3 linked regions of the Homo sapiens genome follow. The protein of the gene in region 1 interacts with the protein of each later gene in a biochemical or structural test. Each region holds a gene or a part of one and is shown in the gene's direction. Other genes may lie near its edges.

What was found.
Region 2: the proteins of GIT2 (region 1) and ARHGEF7 form a complex in vitro, tested with the Homo sapiens proteins (one study listed by BioGRID).
Region 3: the proteins of GIT2 (region 1) and PXN form a complex in vitro, tested with the Homo sapiens proteins (one study listed by BioGRID).

The regions. Positions count from the first base shown.
Region 1 is NC_000012.12:109,944,360-109,948,008, reverse strand, and holds part of GIT2 (ARF GTPase-activating protein GIT2), read left to right. Parts: exon of another isoform or gene 1-504; coding exon 505-753; intron 754-2,659; coding exon 2,660-2,749; intron 2,750-3,649. UniProt on the Homo sapiens protein: GTPase-activating protein for ADP ribosylation factor family members, including ARF1.
Region 2 is NC_000013.11:111,275,714-111,279,362, forward strand, and holds part of ARHGEF7 (rho guanine nucleotide exchange factor 7), read left to right. Parts: intron 1-1,873; coding exon 1,874-1,960; intron 1,961-3,649. UniProt on the Homo sapiens protein: Acts as a RAC1 guanine nucleotide exchange factor (GEF) and can induce membrane ruffling. Functions in cell migration, attachment and cell spreading. Promotes targeting of RAC1 to focal adhesions. May function as a positive regulator of apoptosis.
Region 3 is NC_000012.12:120,213,621-120,217,269, reverse strand, and holds part of PXN (paxillin), read left to right. Parts: intron 1-153; coding exon 154-429; intron 430-688; coding exon 689-997; coding exon of another isoform or gene 998-1,340; intron 1,341-1,608; coding exon 1,609-1,710; intron 1,711-1,852; coding exon of another isoform or gene 1,853-1,996; coding exon 1,997-2,167; intron 2,168-2,271; coding exon 2,272-2,445; intron 2,446-3,052; coding exon 3,053-3,134; intron 3,135-3,279; coding exon 3,280-3,428; intron 3,429-3,649. UniProt on the Homo sapiens protein: Cytoskeletal protein involved in actin-membrane attachment at sites of cell adhesion to the extracellular matrix (focal adhesion). Recruits other proteins such as TRIM15 to focal adhesion.

The DNA.
Region 1 (3,649 bases):
GAACTTCTGTCTTTCTTGCTTTGCAAAGCAACCCTAGTCATCTTTGTGCTGCTTCCATGGTGTCTGCTGTCATTTTTGGCCTTTACAAATTGCTCAGGGCTCATTTGAAAAGCAAGTTACCTAAATGATGTTTTAATGATCTCGAACTCTTGCTTGAAACAGCCTTAGTAATAATCCAGTGTACAGCTTGCCTGCAAACATTTCCCAGCCCCACCATGACAAATTTTAAAGTGGTTAGACATTTTGTTTTGAGGAAGTCCAAACCACAACTTTTCCACATTCAGAAATGAAGCTATTTAATTTGCTTACGTGATGAAGGGAGTTGATTGTGTTTCACCCAATCCAGAAGAAAGGGTCCTTGTTTGTATTGGCTTTTTACTTTCAGCCCGGCTAGCTGTTACTGTCCTTATTGTTTAAAACTGGTAGTTGTATTCATTTACTTGGTGTTTGCTTTTTCTGCTTGCTGTAAAAAAACACAGTCCCACTGCCAAACATTTCTTTCAGCTTCAAACACTCCAGAGTGAAAATTCGAACCTCAGGAAACAGGCCACAACCAATGTATATCAGGTGCAAACTGGTTCTGAGTACACAGACACTTCCAACCACTCTTCCTTAAAGAGACGTCCGTCTGCCCGGGGCAGTAGGCCCATGTCCATGTACGAGACCGGATCAGGTCAGAAACCATATCTCCCAATGGGAGAAGCGAGCCGCCCCGAAGAGAGCAGGATGAGACTCCAGCCCTTCCCCGCGCACGTAAGTAACACCACTGGCGCTTCTGCTGTTCACTCTATGCAGCCTGTCTACTCTGTTCCCTCTTCTGAACCTACAGGTCCCCACAGCTCTGCTTTGCCAAATTGGACTAAGAGAGTTACCATTGTGTTTGCTGTATTAACATGTCCACAGATGCTTGCGATATTCCCACAAGCACACAGGGCCATGGGCTGATGGTTTCCTAACCAAGTTGGGGATTCTGGCTCTTGCCCGAACTGCTGCTTTTTTCTCCCCCACATCCATGATTATTTCTCAACCAGCCAGTGTTGGAACTTTTTTTGGTAAAGCTTCCTTCCTTCTCTACTTCCAAAAACAAAAATAAATCATAAAGTTCACTCTCAGAAGGAAGTGTTGCCTTCTTGGAGCTAGACAGGGATGTGCCCCTTTAAGTACTGGAGCCCTTAGAATCCAAGACGTCTTTTCAGCTCCTCCTCAAGCAGGTGGCCTTGAGTCTGTGGCCCAGGTACCCAGGCAAGGCTGGAAGGCTCCAGGCTTCCGCAGCCTCTCCATGTGTGCTCAGTGTGCCTGCTAGGTTCGCTTCTGCATCCTGCTCCTCCCACCGTGGTGGGGGAAGTGTGGCTTTGTTGTCTCAGAAAAGGAAATGTAATACTCTACATCAGTCTTAGAAGCGCTGAATTCCAGAGATTGTGTTCTGCAGCAGGGTTCTTACAATCTTATTTTGCATTGGGATACATACTGTGTTATAAGGTTTTCAAATATATTTCTTCTGGATTACTTTATTATAAAAATATGTGTTTTGCCAAGATGTTACATTTAAACTTTTTCATGGGATGCTTTTTCAGAGAGTAGTATTTGTCTTTTTGAGTGTCAAAGTTTATTATTTCTTCAGTCAAATTTTATGGGAGTTTCCAAAAAAATTCTCAAGGTAGATGCAAAGCAAGGACATGGTTTCGTGAATTAAACCCTAGTTTAATTTTGTCAATTTTCAGTGTGGTAAAATTACAATATTGTTTTACTATAATTGGGAGTCTGTTATCTCAGATTCTTTTTAAGATATTTGGGTTTAACATTCTAAGGCAATTGATTTGATACATTTGATGTAATGGGAATGCCACTGAACTAAGTTAAGAATCTTTTTTTTTTGAGATGGAGTCTCGCTCTGTCACCCAGGCTGGAGTGCAGTGGTGTGATCTCAGCTCACTGCAACCTTTACCTCCTGGGTTCAAGCAGTTCTCCTGCCTCAGCCTCCTGAGTAGCTGGGACTACAGGCACATGGTCCTGTGCCTGGCTAATTTTTTTGTTTTAGTAGAGACGGGGTTTCATCATGTTGCCCAGGCTGGTCTCAAACTCCTGAGCTCAGGCAATCCGCCCGCCTCAGCCTCCCAAAGTGCTAGGATTACAGGTGTGAGCTACCATGCCCACCCTAAGTTAAGAATCTTATTTTTGTATAGCTGAAGACAAAATTTAGGAAAAGCAACTTTGTTATTTTTCAGTGTACTTTCTTATTTTAGAAAAAATTAGAATATAAAGATATATCAGGAAGGCACTGTAATTGTACTAAAAATTAGATTGATAGTGTATAGCAACTTAGAATCATTTTTATAGTTTCTCATTTCACATCAGTCCTGATTGAAAAACAAATATGCATTTCATAGTATCCATTAAAAAATTATTGACAAGTTTGACAAATTATGTTAGGTATTTCCCTTATGGAAAAGCAGCCTTATTAAATTCAGAGTAATTTCCAGGAGGTGTTTCACCAAGGGTTTAAGCATCTCTGGGGTCCTGTCACTGGTGGCCACTGAGATTGCAGCACTCACGTCACATAATGTGTGGTGTTCCAGGATTCTTTTACTGAAGCTGGCAAGGTGGTAGGTTTTTGGTTTGTTTTGTATTTTCCCGAGTGTGTTTCTCTTTCCCATTCCAGATCGGGAGGAGTGCACTTGTGACCTCCTCTTCATCTCTGCCTTCCTTCCCCTCCACACTTTCCTGGTCGAGGGACGAAAGCGCCCGAAGGGTTAAGTACATTCTGAATGGTCTGCTCTCTGGAGGAGGGGCCGTGCTCCTGGGCGCTTTGTGCTTGGGCTCTGGCCCTCCTGTCCCTGCTAACTGCCCTTCCGTCCTGCATGAGGCAGCACTTCCTCCTGGTTTCTCACAGTGCATCAGGCTCACACTCGTCCACATGCACGCTCACCCATCGAGGGCGCCTCCCTTTCTCTAACCCCATACTGCTCATGTTCACGTCATATTTAACAAAGTTTGCAAATCACCCTACAGCATTTATTCTGAGCAAACTGTTTTTTTAAACAACGAGAAAATTAGCTGGCTGCTGGTTAGATATTATAATAGGCCAAATTTGTTCAATTTGTTCAGGGCTACAGTTGTCAGATTGAAACTGCTGTATGTGGACTCGCTGAAGTACTAAAATGTCATGCCTTTTTTTTTTTTTTTAACCTGTGACACATTTTATGTCAGCACCACAAGTGCTGACAAACCAAGGTTTACAAGTCCCTGCATCTTGAATCAGAATTGTAACACCTTGTGGCATTGGAGCTATGCAAGCAGCTGTTAACCTAAAGCTGTTCACTTGTACGGGTTGGTTAAACCTCACCTACTGGTGTATAATTTATGGTCTCAATAGCAGTGCATGATTCAGGTAAGCCTCTTTTAGAGTAGTCAGGCAGTAAGTATTAAGCACCTCCTCCATACACAGCGTTTGGGTAAGTCAATGAAAGGGTCCTAAGGACTTAGCTGGCACAGCCCCTGCTCCCAAAGGCACTGTCAATTAAAAAATACTTTCATGCATAAAGAGTGGTACATGACCACAACCTGGGAAAGCCGTGGAAAGGGCATAGGCTTTGAAATCCACGTCCCAGTTCTGGCTCCATCTCTTTTTTAATGGAAGGGTAATGTAAGG
Region 2 (3,649 bases), on another chromosome or scaffold:
TCCCACTCTTAGGAGCTCATAGCAGAAGATTTTAAAGGCATCTCAAGCGATGAAAAATGTCTAATAGAAGCTCTATCTTATAATTTGTGAGCTACTTTTTATTCTTGACACAGGAGAGAGGCTTATGGCATGTTAGAGAGGCTTAGAGCTGAGTGTGGACTTGTTGATCAGTTTGATCCAGCTGAAGTCAGTGTGGCCCGAAGCCCACGTGAACTGAAGGATAGATAGTGTGCAGAAAGACTTGCAGGAGTCCTGTGCACACATCCGCATGGAGCTGTATGCGCTTATCTGGCCAGCAACTTTGTACCAAGGCTCACTCTCACAGGGACCTGCTGCTCTCAATGCTTTCGGGTCATTATACTTTCCTGTGAAAGTATGCTAGCTGACATATGCTTACAGGAGTCACAGTTTTCTTACAGGTTTGGTTTAAGTGAGAGATCAACCCAGATTTTTGGGACATACCCACCCACACAGTGAAAATCGAGCAGTTTGTTTCATGATTCACATTGACATACATTCAATGGGTCACTGAACAGGCACCTCTTTCTGAATTTTATTCTACCTTTGCAAAAATAACATGATCAAAACATGCGAAATGACTCATTTTTGAACACAAGACTCCAAGGAGAATAAGAAAACTAAAACTTCAAACTTATATAGTGTGTTTTCCTTTCCACCTGTAAAATATCACCCCTTCTACATAGTCTTGTAGTTTGGGTACCATAAGAAACCATGATTATAAAAACTTCACATCTTTTCAGAAGAAGTTTCTTTTTGAGTCATGCTCTTTTAAACTTTAATCTGTGGAAACATTTCCCAAAGTGTGTTCTTTATAATATTAGATCTATACAGCACTGGTGGGTGTTACTCCAAAATGCTTCAGAGTGGTTCTGATCACGACTGAACGTAATTAGTGGAAAAGATTCTTTATGATAGAGCTCCTCAGAGACTTGGCTGTGAATGTTCCCAATGTATGTTGTGATTCTTCAAGAGGGGAATATAGCAAGTCGTTCTCAGTGACTTCTTTAAAGTACGGAAGACTCTTTTCTCAAGGTGCTTTGCATAAGCCTAATGTTCTGAGGAATATACTTGGGGAAACTAATTCCTAGGACTGATTTCACTTTTTTGGGCCGTAGTTTAAATGTCAACATGTGAAAAGGACTGTGGCATTTTTTTGTCTCTTTTTGGATTCTTAGGAACTTTTTTCTTTCACTTATGGTCTCTTTGGCTTTTATCTTACTGAAGCAAATGATTTTTAATACATAAGTAATACTTTTAAGTCTGATGTAAACCAGGTGATGTTTATGGGGTGGATGAAAACAACACTGAGTCGACATTTGGGAGGTTTGGGAAGTGCCAGGAATTACTAGTAGACCAAAATTGATTTTAACATTTTATCCTTTCTTTAGCTTAAAGACTCCACCTGTTCCCCCTGACCCCATTAAAATTTATAGGTTCTCTCCTTTTTCTCTGAACCAGAAAAAGAAAATTTTAGCTTACCTGAAAATAGTTAATCACAGAGCTGAACTCTTTAACCAAATATAGTTTCAAGATGTTACACAGGCTAATTGTGAGTCCAGGATCTTTTAATCAGTCCGTTTACTTTCTTACCTTTTGTTTTTTGAAGAATTTGGAAGTCCTTCTCTTTACCTATATGTTAAAGCTCTCTCATAATCATATGTTAAGACTTAATACAGAATTTATCATAATTGTTTCCATTTAATTTACCTGATAAAACTTGATAGAAATACCTAAACGAGAAATATCATGTAATGTTTCATAGGGCCTAGTATAAATAAGTGAAGTATTTGTGCTCACATTTGTTAAGTAGATGTTTTTTAAGAAATGTTTTGGATTTCTTTTTTTGTATTAGGAAAAGAATGAAAGATATCTTCTACTCTTCCCAAATGTTTTGCTAATGTTGTCTGCCAGTCCTAGGATGAGTGGCTTTATCTATCAGGTAAAACACAATTTAAATTTATATTTTATTGTGGATCTGAGGATAATTTCAAACTGGCTTTGAATTTTGTGTTAAATATTACGTGTATCTATCTGTGTATGTGCTGTGTGTGTAGTGCTGTATATTCAGATATGGACGTACAGCTCCTGTTTGTGTTTCGTTGTGACTGCAAGCATATCCTATGTTAATTTCAAAAAAGGAAAGAAGTGTAAACTGTAGAGCAACCTCATAAGGACACAGACTACTGTGGCACAAGTCAGTCTCTGTCATTGCCTTCTGTCGTTTCATGCAAAATACCTTGCTCCTCCTTGCTATGGTTTTATTCTGTGAAATTGGTTCAAGTAGGGCTTGTGGGTTAGTGGGGTAGTGTAGACTAAGATCTTGTGTCAGTGGCACGGCACCGCCCAAATGCATCAGCAAACAGAAAGTGATGTAAGGGTGTAAGTAGCAGTGTGTGATCGTTGAACCTTTTTAATTTTTGTTTCCCTGCTTCTCTTTGAGAAAATGTGACAGCAGATTTGGGAAGGAGGTGCAAGGGTGAGCAGGGCCTTTTCTGTTGCGACAGTGGTTTATAGTGGTGGTATATGAAGGAGCTGGTATTTTCGCTGTCTGTCTAGTAGATGCACTTGGCAGGTTTCATTCTTCTTTTTCTGGGAAGTTACAGAGGCTCATATCCTTCCCATCAACTTTCTGAGGACTGGCCAGTCACCACGTAACCACTGCAGCAGAAGCCGCCACTTCGTGTTCTCTGGGTTGCATTTCATTGTAGCACGTGTTGTTTTGTGTTGGCGCAGCAAGGACGTTCAAGATCCCTAAGCAGACACTATGCCCTCACAGAGGCTCTGCCGACACCCAGAGAGGACTTGTGGCCATACGCTTACACCAACACACGTGCTTTAGAATTGGTGAATCACATATGTAGGAACAGACTCAGGAAAGTGAGGCTGTAGTTTGTTAGGCCACTGCTGAAGAGAGGTGATCTGTGGCTAGGATAGTGCCCACTACAGTTTCCCCCAAACTAGCAGCTACTTCTGTGTTAAATGACCTTGATAAACCTAAATCTCTGTCCTTTCTGGTCAGCACTATCTGGCTTCCGATTTTATATCCCCAGAATCTCATTCCAGTGGCTGGAGGCAGGGGCCTTCTCTAACCTAAGGAGAGAAGAGGTTGTCACTTGTGGCAGGCTTGAGTCTCTGCCTGTGTGGCTGGTGCTTACACTGGATTTGCCCTTGATGTGTTGACAGACTGCTGGAGCTCATCTCAACAACAGGATTTTATTTTTCCATTCTTAGCACAGTGGTGACCCATGGTCTCTGTATCATTGGTATCCGTTTCTACCATTAGAACACTGGCTTTGGGGGATGCCAAAAAGTGTTCGGTCCAGCCACAGTCATAGTGTTCTATACACCGATGTTCAGAGGGGCTAGGTTAAACACAGTTGTGCGGTTTCATTTTCTGTAGGACTTACAGCTGTTAAAGTACTTATATGCATTACGAATCTTGGAAAGGAGTTCACAGTGTGTAGCATTTTTTAAATACGCTTGGCCACAGAAGTGTCCAGCAGTCTCCTCTTCCACCGGCCATGCTTTAGGATGAGATTTCTCAGCCTGGGCACTGCTGACGTTCTGGACTGGATCGTTCATGGCCAGGGGCTGGGGGTCTCGGTGAGACTGTCCTGGGCACTGTAGG
Region 3 (3,649 bases), about 10 Mb from region 1:
ATCTGCCCCCTCCCCGTGCCTCCACCCACCTCCGCTTGGTTCTTTGGTGGTTTTCTTTTGTGCTCCCTCTCCTGAGGCATCTGAGTGTGGCCTGAGCAGCGTTGTGCAAGCTGGGAGTGGGACGGTGACAGCCTCCCCTCCCCCTCCCCCTAGATCCGATCTGTGATCAGGAGGAGCTGGGAGTCTGGCCACGCACACCCCATGTCCCGGGAGCCCTCCCCTCGCCGCCGGCTGGACCCTGCCACCTTGAGCAGGACCCCATCCCAGGAACAGCTCATCGCGGAGCTGCAGGGGCGGCTGGGCATCCAGCCTGAGGCAGAGGAGCCGGCGGAGGCGGCGGGGCCCTCTGCCCAGGACTGGCTGACCGAGGGCGTCATCATCACTGTGCAGCCACGTGGGAAGCGGGCCGGGGGGCAGCTCGTAGAGAAGGTGGCGAGGAGATGCCCATGGCTGGGGCTGGGCCAGAGCCAAGCACCTGGGGTCCGGGTTCTTCCCTGGCCCCAGTGCTGGCCGGAGGGGAGATCTGGGGAGAGGGTGGGGGTTTCTTGCCTCCTGTGACTTTGGAAGACTGGCCCCACTCTTGGTGCAGAGTGGGAAGGCCCAGGGGGAGCCTGGGGAGGTCCCGCCACCCCTGTGGGCTGAGCTGGCGATTTCTTCCTCATCGCTCTCCCTCCTTTCTTCTCCCCAGGTTGTCTTCCCTCCTGGCTCTCCCATTCCCCTGAGAAGAACCATCTCTGTCCTGGCTTCTCCTTCTGTCCCTTTGCTCCAGCATCGCACAGACGCCGCGGCCAGCAGCTCTTCTCCCCTGCCCAGCCTGCTCGCCTCCTCCCCCCTGGGGCCCTCAGCTTATACCTGTGGTTCTTCTGGGGTCCAGAGTGCAGGGGAAGAGCCCCATGATGAGGGGGTGCAGGGCCCTGCCCTTCCCATTCCTGCACCCCACACCATGAGGTCCGTGGGCTGCCAGACTGATGAGGACCCGCTCTTCCCCCCGATGCAGGCAGGCCTTAAAGGAGCCCCTCCCTTTCTGTCCCCTGTCCTAATGCCTGAGCCATCCCCCACTCTGCACACACACACGTGCACACACACATACACAGATACCCTCCATCCCTCCATCTACAAGCCCCAGCACAGTAACCACAGTCCTGCCGTAAACCTTGACCCCGGTCTTCCCCCACTCAGAAGGTCCGCTGCCCTCTTGCTTTTCTGTGGGTCCACCCATGTCTGCTCCTTCCTCGACTGGTCCTCAGTACTGCCCCGGGCTCCCATCGAGGAAAGAAGCCACTCCAGAAGGGAGACCAGAAACCTGTCTCCTCCCTTCCAGCCCCCAGGCCCAGCGCCCGGTGAGGCCTCATCACTGAGCCCGGCCACCTCCCCTTGCCATTTCCTCTGCCTTTGGTCGACTCCCCTCCCTGTCCTTCTTCCTTTCTCCCTAGGCCTCTCTCTCAGGGCTCTTTTTCTCCAGATTTTTTCCCCCAATTTTGGTCCTGCCGGTGGGGGAGAAACCCTCAGATCTCATCCTAGATTCCCTTTTAGTCCAGTGACAAGGTCTTGTATTCTTTCTTAATTTTTAAAAAAGATTTCTTACCCTCATCTCTTCCCCTATCTAAGATCCAGGGCCTGGAGCAAAGAGCGGATGGGGAGCGGTGCTGGGCGGCCGGCTGGCCTCGGGACGGCGGGCGGAGCAGCCCCGGAGGGCAGGACGAGGGAGGGGTCAGTGCCAAGGCTGGGCTGGGTGTCCTGCGTGTCGTGCTCTCCCTGGGCTTGGCCATGCCTGCTGGGTGCCCTCAGCCTTTCCGACCCTGGTGGGCCCCTCCGACCACCAGGAGTCCTGCTGACGTCACTCCCACTTTAGGGCTCCTGGCCCCTGGAGGAGGTTGTACTTCTTGTCTCCATCAGCTCATCTGTCCAGGAGGGAGAAAAGTACCCCCATCCCTGTGCTGCCAGACACCGTACCCCGAGCCTCAGGAGTCCTGACCAGCCCCCTCCGTGTCCACAGTTCATGGCCCAGGGGAAGACAGGGAGCAGCTCACCCCCTGGGGGGCCCCCGAAGCCCGGGAGCCAGCTGGACAGCATGCTGGGGAGCCTGCAGTCTGACCTGAACAAGCTGGGGGTCGCCACAGTCGCCAAAGGAGTCTGCGGGGCCTGCAAGAAGCCCATCGCCGGGCAGGTGATGAGGGGGAGTGGGCAGGGGTGTGGCCAGTGGACTCCTGCAGGGGTGGGGGTGCTCCGGGGCTGGCCTTGGCCCTGGACCGCATTCCATCTCCTCCTCAGGTTGTGACCGCCATGGGGAAGACGTGGCACCCCGAGCACTTCGTCTGCACCCACTGCCAGGAGGAGATCGGATCCCGGAACTTCTTCGAGCGGGATGGACAGCCCTACTGTGAAAAGGACTACCACAACCTCTTCTCCCCGCGCTGCTACTACTGCAACGGCCCCATCCTGGATGTGAGTTCCTCATCCGGCACCGCGCCCGCTTCCGCTCATTCCAGCTTCACCGCAGCCCTCTGAGGATGCAGGGGGTGCCGTGGGAGGCTCAGAGAGGTCACATGCCCGAGGCTCACAGGGCTAGGGAACAGTGGGGCCGGATTCACAGCCACACCTGAACCACAGCCTGTCCCGATGTGCATCGGGCAGCCCCACCTCCCTTCACCTCCCATCTCGATTCCTTTCTGTGGAGACTCCCAGGACTCAGGAGCCCTGAGGAGATAAATGGAGTTGGATGCCAGCGGCCTCACTCTCCCTCTCTGTGAACTTAGGAAATGCCTGGCCTCTCTGAGCCTATGTTTCTTCACTTATAAAATGGGAGTCATAGAACTTGTGCCCTCTACTTGGGGTGAGGAGTAGAGGAGAGGGTATGTGTCTGGCTTGTCCCATCCTGAGTAACTCTGAATTCTTAGAGGCATTCACAGCACAATTAGGAGAGACCCCCATCTTGGGAGTGTTTTGCTCTGTCTATGGCTATGAGCTGCGGGTGGAAGGACGGCCTTGCTGGGCGTCTCAGTTGTGAGATCTGCCCAGAGCTCAGCCTTGATCCCACATTTTGCTTTCACAGAAAGTGGTGACAGCCCTTGACCGGACGTGGCACCCTGAACACTTCTTCTGTGCACAGTGTGGAGCCTTCTTTGGTCCCGAAGGTACGGGCTGGACCGGCGGACTGACCCACCGCCTCTTAGGAGGGCCGGGGAGGTGGGGGTGGGAGACGCTGCTGAGGTTGGAGTCAGAGTGGCTCCACTTCTGGAAGCCGGAATGAACTGTGCCTCCAAAACCCCCGCTCCCCAGGGTTCCACGAGAAGGACGGCAAGGCCTACTGTCGCAAGGACTACTTCGACATGTTCGCACCCAAGTGTGGCGGCTGCGCCCGGGCCATCCTGGAGAACTATATCTCAGCCCTCAACACGCTGTGGCATCCTGAGTGCTTTGTGTGCCGGGTAAGGAGCCCCTGACCACATCTGGAGGGGCGAGGAGCAGGCAGTGGGGAGAGAGGGGTCTTCCTCATTGTGCTGTCTGGATCCAACTCAGAGGCCTCATTTGGGGTTATTAATTGGGGGAGCAGGCAGGGGATCTCCTTCCTCCAGTCCAGTAGGTCCTGGGCCAGGGTTTGTACTGAGGCTGGGACAAACCAGGAGCAAGGTAGACATGTCCCCCAGTC